Homo sapiens: one gene and its partners. The protein of the gene in region 1 interacts with the protein of each later gene in a pairwise test. Each region holds a gene or a part of one and is shown in the gene's direction. Other genes may lie near its edges.

The links.
Region 2: the proteins of SULT1E1 (region 1) and ENOX1 interact in a two-hybrid assay, tested with the Homo sapiens proteins (one large-scale study listed by BioGRID and IntAct).
Region 3: the proteins of SULT1E1 (region 1) and IGSF21 interact in a two-hybrid assay, tested with the Homo sapiens proteins (one large-scale study listed by BioGRID and IntAct).

The regions. Positions count from the first base shown.
Region 1 is NC_000004.12:69,850,099-69,853,748, reverse strand, and holds part of SULT1E1 (sulfotransferase 1E1), read left to right. Parts: intron 1-3,650. UniProt on the Homo sapiens protein: Sulfotransferase that utilizes 3'-phospho-5'-adenylyl sulfate (PAPS) as sulfonate donor to catalyze the sulfate conjugation of estradiol and estrone. Is a key enzyme in estrogen homeostasis, the sulfation of estrogens leads to their inactivation.
Region 2 is NC_000013.11:43,349,964-43,353,613, reverse strand, and holds part of ENOX1 (ecto-NOX disulfide-thiol exchanger 1), read left to right. Parts: intron 1-3,650. UniProt on the Homo sapiens protein: Probably acts as a terminal oxidase of plasma electron transport from cytosolic NAD(P)H via hydroquinones to acceptors at the cell surface.
Region 3 is NC_000001.11:18,106,539-18,110,671, forward strand, and holds the start of IGSF21 (immunoglobulin superfamily member 21 precursor), read left to right. Parts: upstream 1-1,259; 5' UTR 1,260-1,590; coding exon 1,591-1,660; intron 1,661-4,133. UniProt on the Homo sapiens protein: Involved in synaptic inhibition in the brain. Selectively regulates inhibitory presynaptic differentiation through interacting with presynaptic NRXN2.

The DNA.
Region 1 (3,650 bases):
TCATATAATAACTATGTATTGAGTGCCTATTATGTGTTAGGGACATAAGAGTAAGACACATGCAAGCCTTGTCTTCATGGACACCTAGTCCATTTCAGAAAAAGGACAGGTTAACAGACAAGACAAAAAGTATCATAGGTCAAGTAAGAGAGAGAATTCAAACTCAGACACTGGGGGTAGGGAAGGCATCCAGGAGCAACATCTCAGCTGATATTTGAATGATGTATCAGTGTGATGACAATTCAGAGATGATCTGAGGGGGCATCTAAAATCAGTTCAGCTTGGCTGGAAGATTAAGTGTACATATTGGCTAAATAAGTAAAGGCAGATTAGCTAGGAACGGATTATAAGAAATATTGAAAGTCAAGTTAAGATGTTTGGACTCTGACATTTTAATGGTAATGAGGAGTAATAGACATATTAAGCTGACGGTTTACACTGTCAGTTTTGCTCTTTAAAAATAATATTATACATGACCTCAAAATACAGAGAAAACATGAAGTCTGAGACCACCAATTCTGTTCTTCAAGACCTTTCTCTCACCAGTGCTGTTCTTCAAGATCTTATAGTATTATTTGCAGTCATCACTAACAAAAAGGGGATATATCCCAGTCATTAAATATTTCCATTTTGTAATCCGTTACATGGCATATTTGACATTTCCTGGAGATCTACAGACAAAAATCAAAGATTGCCAGGTTAGTTTGTTTTTATCATTAGCAATCCTAGATAGACGATATACGTCCTGCTGAAGTCATTCCATGCATAAGGGCTGTCTCATTAGTAAAGACCAGTTATGTACTTTCCAGGAGATGTGTCATTATTATTTTTTAAGAGATTTGACCAAGACACTTTTTTCCTTTGGAGGATAGTGGTGGACTTGCTGTTAACTCCTTACTTCTCAAATGGAAACAGGTACCAGACATTTATAATAGTCCAAGCCTTCACAAAGCTGCTTATTTTTCAGAGTTTATCAAAGACTAGGAGATAGTTGGAGGGATTCATGTTTGGAGTATTTCCAGGGTTATTTACAGAGAAACAACAACAACAAAATAAAACAAATAGATACAGGATATTTGTAAATATCCTTTATGCAAATAGATACAGGATATTTGGAATGATGGAGCAGAAACTGTAAGTGATAAAGAGAAGAAAGTGACAAAAAGTAACAGGCTAGTAGATAATATAAATAACTGAGGCCAACGGATTTGAGCCATTGGTTTGATTGTAGGAGAGGTATGTGGAATAACTGATGGGGAAGAAGGAAGAAGCGGGATTTTTTGGAAGAAAAGATTATGGCTCAGGATAATTCTTCAAAAGTGAAACCTTTATGGTGAAGGCAAGATTCAGTATTTGGTTACAAAAGTGGTTACAAAAGTCTGAAGTAACATAGAAGTAATGATCAATGACTACATGAACTTAGAGAATCAAGTAGATCACACACACCAACAATAAAATTACACAGAATGATAAAAGAATTTGAATGGAGAGTGAAACCATGAGGCAGGTGTTCAAATCTTCAGTTAAAGCAAGGGAATGGCCACAAGCTTAGAAATAGCATCAGATAGGAGAGGTATAGATTAGTTAGTTAAGTATCATAGGAATAGAATAGGGGTCTTTTTTTAATTATACTTCAAGTTTTAGGGTACATGTGCACAATGTGCAGGTTTGTTACATATGTATACATGTGCCATGTTGGTATCCTGCACCCATTAACTTGTCATTTACATTAGGTATATCTTCTAATGCTGTCCCTCCCCGCTCTCCCCACCCCACAACAGGCCCCAGTGTGTGATGTTCCCCTTCTTGTGTCCAGGTGTTCTCATTGTTCACTTCCCACCTATGAGTGAGAACATGAGGTGTTTGGTTTTTTGTTCTTGAGATAGTTTGCTGAGAATGATGGTTTCCAGTTTCATCCATGTCCCTACAAAGGACATGAACTCATTCTTTTTTATGGCTGCATAGTATTCTATGCTGTATATGTGCCACATTTTCTTAATCCAGTCTATCATTGTTGGATATTTGGGTTGGTTCCAAGTCTTTGCTATTGTGAATAGTGCCACAATAAACATACGTGTTCATGTGTCTTTATAGTAGCATGATTTATAATCCTTTGGGTATATACCCAGTAATGGGATGGCTGGGTCAAATGGTATTTCTAGTTCTAGATCCCTGAGGGATCGCCATACTGACTTCCACAATGGTTGAACTAGTTTACAGTCCCATCAACAGTGTAAAAGTGTTCCTATTTCTCCACATCCTCTCCAGCACCTGTTGTTTCCTGACTTTTTAATGATCACCATTCTAACTGGTGTGAGACGGTATCTCATTATGGTTTTGATTTGCATTTCTCTGATGGCCAGTGATGCTGAGCATTTTTTCATGTGTCTGTTGGCTGCATAAATGTCTTCTCTTGAGAAGTGTCTGTTCATATCCTTCACCCATTTTTGATGGGGTTGTTTGTTTTTTTCTTGTAAATTTGTTTGAGTTTTTTGTATATTCTGGATATTAGACCTTTGTCAGATAAGTAGATTGCAAAAATTTTCTCCCATTCTGTAGGTTGCCTTTTCACTCTGATGGTAGTTTCTTTTGCTGTGCAGAAGCTCTTTAGTTTAATTAGATCCCATTTGTCAATTTTGGCTTTGCAAGGACTTCATGTCTAAAACACCAAAAGCAATGGCAACAAAAAGAATAGGGGTCTTTAAAGTGCAAAATTTTTAAGACAGATTACAATCACAAGTGAATCATTGGGAAACTGGTAACTTTGACTCAAGAGAGATGCAGTGCAAGTCATATCTTCAGGAAAGAGCTAGATTTCCCTTGAGGACAAAAAAATGAGCATGTACAGTAAAAAGTTTGGGATATTGAATAAGATCTGCCAAAATAAAGAATATAAACTAATAGAAGTTTAGGGAAAGAGAGATCACTCTTTTTTTCTATCTGGGAAAATAAAAAGCCTCATGGAGGACCAGAAGGCAAGCTATAAAATACAGATAGCATTTTGAGAAACAGAAAACATTCAAGAAAGACAGACTAGAACAAAGAAGACAAGGGGTGAAAATTCTGAAGTAAATTAATGCATACAGTGGCAAAGGGTTCCATTCAGCTAATAGATGAAAAGAACTAGGAAGGGTTATAAGTAAGATTGGAAAAGTTCAATATGGCTAATGATGGATTTTATATGAAAAATGTTCACTTTTATTCTGCAGTTTTTAGAGGCTTTTACAAGAGGGCTATAAAACGAGAGCTATACATCTAAGAATAAGCTAGATTTCTACAACATTGTTAGAAAATGTCATCAGTAAGACAATTTAGTAGCTTTAGTTTAGTGGTATTCCATAAACAGTGGATACTCAACAGCATCCTTTCATGACATTGCTTAGGTGCCTGAGGGCCTAAGTAGAAGCCCATGAGGATACTGGACTTTACTTTCACAGATCTTTTCGTGTAACATTGAGTATCAGACCTAGAGTAGGCCACAGATGATCTAACACAAATCATTTGTTTAGTAAAGAAAACATTTAGGTCAAAAATTACTGTACTGTTTTTTCTTACTGCCAAAACTAGAAACTAAAACCACAGTTTTCTGAAAACTAATTCATTGGTATTTCTTCTGCATGTAAAATGGAAACTAACAAGGTGTTGGCAGA
Region 2 (3,650 bases), on another chromosome or scaffold:
GGAAATCCACTCCATGCTCCTTATAATGTTGCAAAGCCAGACAGGAGGAGCTGAGGACACTGTTTCCCTGAAGATGATTTCATTGATGTGGGGACATAAAATACAGTCAATACCTAAGGTAAAGAAATCTGTGTCAGAAAGGAAATGGAAATGCAATCTGAAAATACCTAATTGGATTTGATTTTTTTCCTCCCCTGAGAAATCTTACTTAGATTTATTACAGATACTTTTCCTCTATTTTATATCATACTTGTTTATTCTTACAATTTTCTCTTTGAAAATCAGCTTTATTTAGCAAAATCTGTACAAACCAAGTCTTTCTTATGACCCACAAGGCCCTCTCCATGTCCTGTCCAATGCTAAAACTGTGCACATAGTAGGTGCTCAGTAAAAATAATTATTTTCTCTCTTCTTCTGCTATTTGGATCTATGAGCACGTTGAATTTCTGTCCAGTGGTTCTACTGGGCATGACCAGATGTACATGGAAATGATGTGATGTGTGCTCAGCCATCCTTCCAATCACTCAAGAAGTATTCGTTAATCAGCATTTTACCATATGACTGGCGCTGTCCTAGCCAGTGGTGGAAAGGACAACGGTGAACAAGCCCCTGCCTCAAAGAGTTTAGGTGTCTTGAGTGACACAGGCAATAACAAATCACCTTGCGTTTGCCACTTATAATAGTGCACTATTATAATAAATATAATAATCCTCCTGTTATATGTGGGAAGTGCACAGTGCTGTCACAGGGGAGATAGCCAGCCCGGATGGGCAGTGCTGGAGTGAGAGAGGGAGGATCTTCTGGGACCAGGTTATCCCATTCACTGGCTACTTGACCTTCTGAAACCAGAGGTAACACTGTGTTGTATTTGTGTAGTGCCTGAGACATGGAGTCACCCAGTGCCTGTTACATTAATACAAATTCTAAAAAAGAAAATTAGTAAGCATCCTGCTGGTTAAACAGACATTGTTCCGAGACAATTCAACTTAATGAAGACCGACTGGGAAGTAACTGCTCAGAAACCCAAAGTTTATAGCATGGCTTTGAGAAAGTGGGAAGGAGCTCAATAACACCATAATTACACTTTATTGGAAACAGTGGCAACCAGGCAGATGAGATAATGAATTTCAGTGTGTCTAACACAGACCATCCACCCCTGGAGGAACCCTGTGTTTGGACTGTGGGAGGAAGAGATTGATTAGACAGTGAGGAAGGATTATATTCTAATTCACCGGGATTTCTCTTGGCAAGAGCATTTAAAAGTTTTTACGTACTTTGTACCCCCTTAGAAAGCTTCACATAATCTTTCATTTTGTGATGAAATGAAGAGTTTCTCTCTGAATTAGGTGACGTCCTGACAAAGCCTTGCAGGCAGGGCCTTTGGGATTTCCTGATGTGTCAACAAGAATACCATCCTCCTGGGATCAACATTCATAATTTCCAGAGAACTGGACTCTTATTTGCATATAGAATAGCCTCATGTCAGCCTGCCAGAGGGAGGAAGGGGCAGATGTGGTACCAGCATTTTGCTGAGATGGTTGTCAGTATTTATGGTTCCATGAAAGTAAAAATCAATAATGTTATGAGCCAAGTGGATGTCCCATTAGCTAAAAGCCAGGCTTCCTTCATAGAGTAAGGGAAATATGAAACATAGGAGCCTGTTTGCAAATTATTTCCTTATGTGTTATTGACCTTCATAGAGGCAAGATAGGCCGTTTTATTTAGAAATATTTTGCTTGGCATTATTCACAATAGCAAAGACTTGGAACCAACCCAAATGTCCAACAATGATAGACTGGATTAAGAAAATGTGGCACATATACACCATGGAATACTATGCAGCCATAAAAAATGATGAGTTCATGTCCTTTGTAGGGACATGGATGAAATTGGAAATCATCATTCTCAGTAAACTATCGCAAGAACAAAAAAGCAAACACCGCATATTCTCACTCATAGGTGGGAATTGAACAATGAGATCACATGGACACATGAAGGGGAATATCACACTCTGGGGACTGTGGTGGGGTGGGGGGAGGGGGGAGGGATAGCATTGGGAGATATACCTAAGGCTAGATGACGAGTTAGTGGGTGCAGCGCACCAGCATGGCACATGTATACATATGTAACTAACCTGCACAATGTGCACATGTACCCTAAAACTTAAAGTATAATAAAAAATAAATAAATAAATAAATAAAATAAATAAATAAAATAAAAAGAAATATTTTGCTCGACCCTAAAGCAGGAATAATCAGTGCATTTTCATATTGCCCCCTTAATTTTCTCATTTTTACAGCTACTAAATAGTTAAGGAGATTGCATGTGTGTTTTGGGGGTAGAAGGGAACATTAACTCTTTGTTTAGCCTTTTATGCTGTCTGTGATCTGGTTAGTTGATGCGGGGTTAATTGAGCAGCCAGGAAAAGGAGACTTCTTTAGGGACATGTACAGAAATTTGGGGATTGTGATAGCAGCAATGCTTTGACCATACTGAAATTCCAAATCTGCTTAGATGACTCTGTGACTGTACACTGTGAGCAATTTCCAGCTATCTTTGGAGCCAGAAATCAGTGATAACTACAGACATACCTTTCCTTGTGTGTGTATGTGTGTACACATGTGTGTGTCCCTCCATTTCTTTGGAAAGAAAAGCATTTTAGAATGCCTTCCTTGTTTTCCCTCGTTCCGTTCAAACATAAAATCCCTGTCTCCTCATTGTTCCTTTATAGACCCAGCTGTAAATAAGGATACTATAGCCCACCTAAGTTTCGTATTCAGTGCTCCCGGCTTGGCTCTTATCCTATCTATTGTTCTGAAATTCAGGGCTGCTTCTCCCTGTGCACACAAAGCGGGAGGAAAAAAACACCAGCCGGGCGTAGTGGCTCACGCCTGTAATCCTAGCCCTTTGGGAGGCCGAGATGGGTGGATCACCTGAGGTCAGGAGTTCGAGACCAGCCTGACCAACATGGAGAAACCCCATCTCTACTAAAAATACAAAATTAGCCGGGCCTGGTGGCGCATGCCCGTAATCCCAGCTACTCAGGAGGCTGAGGCAGGAGAATCACTTGAACCCAGGAGGTGGAGGTTGCAGTGAGCCGAGATCATGCCATTGCACTCCAGCCTGGGCAACAAGAGCAAAACTCCATCTCAAAAACAAAAACAAAAAACACTTACCAATTTGGTTTATTTTCCCCATCATTATCTATGTATCAGTTTAATTAAAATTCACCAGGTACCCATCGCTTTGTGCCATGCCCTGGACTTTCAGATATGACTGTAGCATGGGCCCTGTCTTTTGTTAAAGAATACTGTGGCGGTGAAATCATGACTGTCTTACAAATATAAAATGAACATGTGCCAATGATTTTATTTAACTCACTAATTAATAAGGAGACCAAGAAAATGTTAAAACTGTTTCGAAGGAGAATTCGCTTTATAAAGATTTACATTTTCTACTGAACAAAAATTAATTTGCATTGTTACAGAGACGAATTATTTGTATTGTTATCAGTTTGCCACAATTTATGTTCTACTCCTACAAAGTTGTAAAATAGCCTAGTCAGAGATTAGCCAAAGAATTAAAGTTTCCCACCCCCTGTAGAATTAGGTAATTCATGCCCAGCATTCCATAGAAAGGGTCTATAGTAA
Region 3 (4,133 bases), on another chromosome or scaffold:
GGCAGGAGGAGGGAGCAGTTCACTTTCATGGACATCTCTGCACAAAGCTCACCCAGAGGCAGCCCAGCAACCACCCATTGCCCACCCCACTCCCTACACTCCTCTCAGAGGGCTGCTGGAGATGGAACTGGCTATAGACCCATTGCCCATGTAGGTAAACGATGCAACAGCCTGACTCAGCAACCTGCCAGAGCTAGGGAAGCTGGAGATTCTCCATAGAAGGCCTGGGTAAAGGGACCCACCTGAGTTCTGAGCAGGTTTTGCCCCTGGTCGTGCTGGTTTTTCTGGGCTTTGCCAATCTTCTGGGTCCCTACCAATGGTGAAATTCTATCTCCTGAACTTCCTCATCTAACCACATCCCCAGTCCACTCCAAGGGCTAGAGTACCCCTCCCCTTCATCCTCGCAGGAGGCCTCAAAGTCCACCGCCAGGGCTGAGGCTCAATGGTGTGTGTGTGTGTGTGTGTGTGTGTGTGTGTGTGCTCGCGTGTGTGTTGGTGGGAGAGTAATGGTAACATACAAGTCCCAAACCTGTTCTTCTCGGACCTGGGAAGAAAAGCTGTCAGGTCTGGCAAAAAGGTGGAAACTTGGTCTCTGCCAGGAGGAAACAATCAGTTCCTCACCCTTCCTGGCTGGATCCTAGCACATGGGAAAAAGACAGAACACACCCCATTTCCGTGGGTCCCTGGGGGAAGGAGCAGCCGTAATTGGGGAAGTTTCAGAACATGGAAACCCCTTAATCTTGCCCAATGAGGGCATTCATCGTTGGCAAGGTCAGAACTCCAGAGCCACACCCTGCCTGCCCTGCTCCCAGGATGGCATCTTTCCCTCTCGGGAGGGAGGCTGCCTCCTTTCATCAGGCTGAGTAGCGGGGAGGGCGATGGTAATCCCGGGGATAGGAGGGGCTAGGTAAAGGCGGATCCGATGGAGCATAGCTTCCAGGGCGGGGTGTTGGGTCACCTGGGTAAGGGTTAAGAAGCTGGAGGCAGCAAGCCAGTTTTGAGTGAGGGGGGACCTGAGTGAGGGGAGAGGGGAGGTTAGGAGGGGGTGAGCTCTCCTTCTCCCTGCAATAAATCGGCTTAGCGGACGAGAGCCGAACAGCCCAGAAAGGATTAAAGAAAAGTCTGTATAATACGCGGAGAGCGCGGCGAGGGGAGGGCAAGGAGGGCGGGGGGGCGGGGAGAGGGGGAGGGACGGAGGGAGGGCGAGAGGAGGGGGGTGCTCGCGCCGCCGGGAGAGGCGAGCGCGAGGCAGAGAGCGCGATTCGGCTCCAAACTCCGGCGCTGCAGCCGATCGGACTCTGGGCCGCGGTGGGCACCGCGCGCAGCTAGGGAGCCGAGAACCGCGGCGAGCCCCGAGGACGCCCAGAGCGCGAGGGTCGCTGCGCCTCGCAGAGCCGGAGCCGAGTCGAGCCGGGCGCCCGGGCTGCCTGGCCGCGGCGGCATGGGGGCGCCCCCGCGGCTCTCCGCGCTGCCCGCCACCGCCTCGGCCAGTGGCCGGAGGCAGGAGCGCGTCTGAGCCCATGGCGAGGGGACCCGCCGCCACCGCCTCCACCCCCGCCGCCCCGCCACCGCCGCCAGCTCCCGGGCACCATGCGAACCGCCCCGAGCCTCCGCCGCTGCGTCTGCCTGCTGCTCGCCGCGATCCTGGACCTGGCGCGCGGTGAGTGCGCGGGCGCCTGGCGGGAGCCGAGCGGTGAACGTGCGCGGGGACGGGGTGCCGGGGGAGGGCGCTGGCCGGGGTCGCTCCGAGAGGCTCGGGCTACGAGCACCGGTCCTGCCCGGGGTCTGTGGAGCTGGTTGGCTCGATGAGGGAGGGAGGACGCCTCTTGGAGAGCGCTCATGGATTTGTGCCAGGGTGTGTGTGTGTGTGTAAATTGTGTGTCTTTGTTGTGTGTCTGGGTGAGGGTGTCCGGGAAGGAGCTGTGTGGGCAGAAGGTGCGGGAGTGTATTTAGAGATGCAAGTGTGTGTGTGCGTGTGTGTGTGATGGTGTGGGGTCTGCGTGTGAGTGAGCGAGGGTCTGGATGGGTGTTAGAGTGTCTGTGTCAGTTACATGGAGAAGGTGTGTGTGTGAGAGTGTGAGCGAATGTTGGGGGGAGGGTGTGAACATGTGCCACCTTCCCTGTGAGGGTGTGAAGTGTGTGAGCTTGTGTCACTGTGGGTGTGAGGTGTTAGGGGGTGGGTATGTGAGGTTTGGCGTTTCACGTGTGTCCCGAGTGTGCAGGTCTCTAGGGGTGTACGACAGCGGATTACTATTTCTGTGTGCACAGGAGATGGGACTGTGACACTGGACAAGAGTCTGCTTATGTGGGATGGGTGGGGGTGCAGGTGCCTGGGAGTCGTGGGCTTCATGGGGCTGGGAGTGTGTGTATGCGTGCCATGGAGCGTGTGGTTATCGTGTGCAGGGAGGTATGGACGCTTCCGGGGCTGGGGAGTTGTGAGCAGCTCAGTGTGTGTGTGTGTGTGTGTGTGTGTGTGTCCCGCCGTGTGGACTTGCTCCCGGGTTAGGCTAAGACAGCTAGAAGGAGGTTGAAGCCGAGCGGGTTCTCCGGAGCCAGTGAGAGGTGGCTCCGCAGCCCCAGGGTCCGCGGCCGGCCTCCCACCCAGTGCCGCCGCGTAGTGGGTCTTAAATGGAGCTGAACCCTTTCGCGCAGTGAGCAGAGAGCCAACGTGAGGCTAAAAGCCAGGAGGGAGGGAGGCGGGACCAGCGAAGAGCCGCAGGCACCGAGACTACAGGCTCCGCGTCCGGGATCCTCCTCGGAGCCTGGTGCCAACCTCAGCCTGGCTGGAGTCAGAGCCTGGCTCCGCCTCGGAGGGGAGCGGGACGCGAGGTGCCAAAAAGTCGTCTTTATGATCAATAAGGTCTCGACCCCGAGCCCCACTGGATGATAGAGGTGGGCATCACCTCTGTCCTATGCCATAGCCTTGTCCCAGCAGGAGGTGCCTACCTAGGCTCTGAGAGTGCCTGCCAGGAAGGGGTGCCCCCTTAAAAATAACCCCAACTCCTTCTACCCCGAAGTCCTTGGGGAGTGCTGGGTCTGCTGATGGGAGAAGCTGCAGAATTTGAGCCCGGAAGGTGGTCCTGACAGCGAGGGGGGAGGGGTTGGTGTAACCCAGAAGGAATGCAAACCCTGTACTTTGTTCCCCTACCCTTGGAACAAGAGACTTTCCTAAGTGGATCAAAATGTCCCCCCTCAACTTTGGGAGGAGGGCTCTAGAGGGAAAGGTTACATGGGGGAGGTCCTCGTTCCAGCGCCGCCGAGAGGGCACTGGGGTTTGTTGAAAGGCACTGGAGCCCTCACCTGGACATTGCAGGGGGCGGGGGTTGGAGGCTGGGGACCTAAGGTAAGCACCCCTTTCCCTGGGAATGCGCAGAACAGAGAGACGCGGCAGGGTGAAGGAGAGGACTGATGAGAAGGGCTTGTTGGGAAACCCTGGCTCCGTCAGGACCCCACCCTGCGAGCTCTCCCTGGAACCCGGGAGCAGGGTTCTTCTGGCTGCCCGGCTGCAGAGAGCTGACCCGGCATCCTGACGCCTCAAATCCCTTTGCCCGCCTCTGCGGGCTGCGGGAGGCGGGGGTTGGCGTGCCTGAGGGTGAGCGCATCTGGGCCGGTGCAGCCAGCGCGGCCTCGGAGCTCCGCTGCTCAGGATGAAGGAAGAGCGCAGACGCGGATCGCGAATGGGAAACTTTCCGCGTCTGGGGCGCAGAGGGAGATCCGAGGCAGCCGGGAGCCCTCTCTTCTCCGCAGAGGAGAGCACACGAGGGTGGGGTCCCTCCTTCCTCCTTCCAAGTCTGTGCCCAGAATGGGGGGCGGGGTGCGAGAAGAGTCCGTGAGAGACGCAAGAGGCGGGCTGTGCCGGAGGAGGGCGCCCTTCCTGGAGGTGGCCGAGAGAGGTGCACCTGGCAGCGGCTTTGCAGGGCCACCTGCCTCCGAGGGCGCAGAGAGGAGCAACCCGCGCCGGCCTTCACGAACGTACTGGCGGTCACTGCTCGGGGAGGGGCACGGCCAGAACGCCCTCGCCGGTTCTGCCCCTTTGGGTGGCAGAGCAAGGGTGCCCGACGCTAGAGAGTCGGGTCTGGCAGGAGGAAGGAGGCCGCTGCCCCTCGCACTGGCTGGGCCGGAAGTCCTTGCCC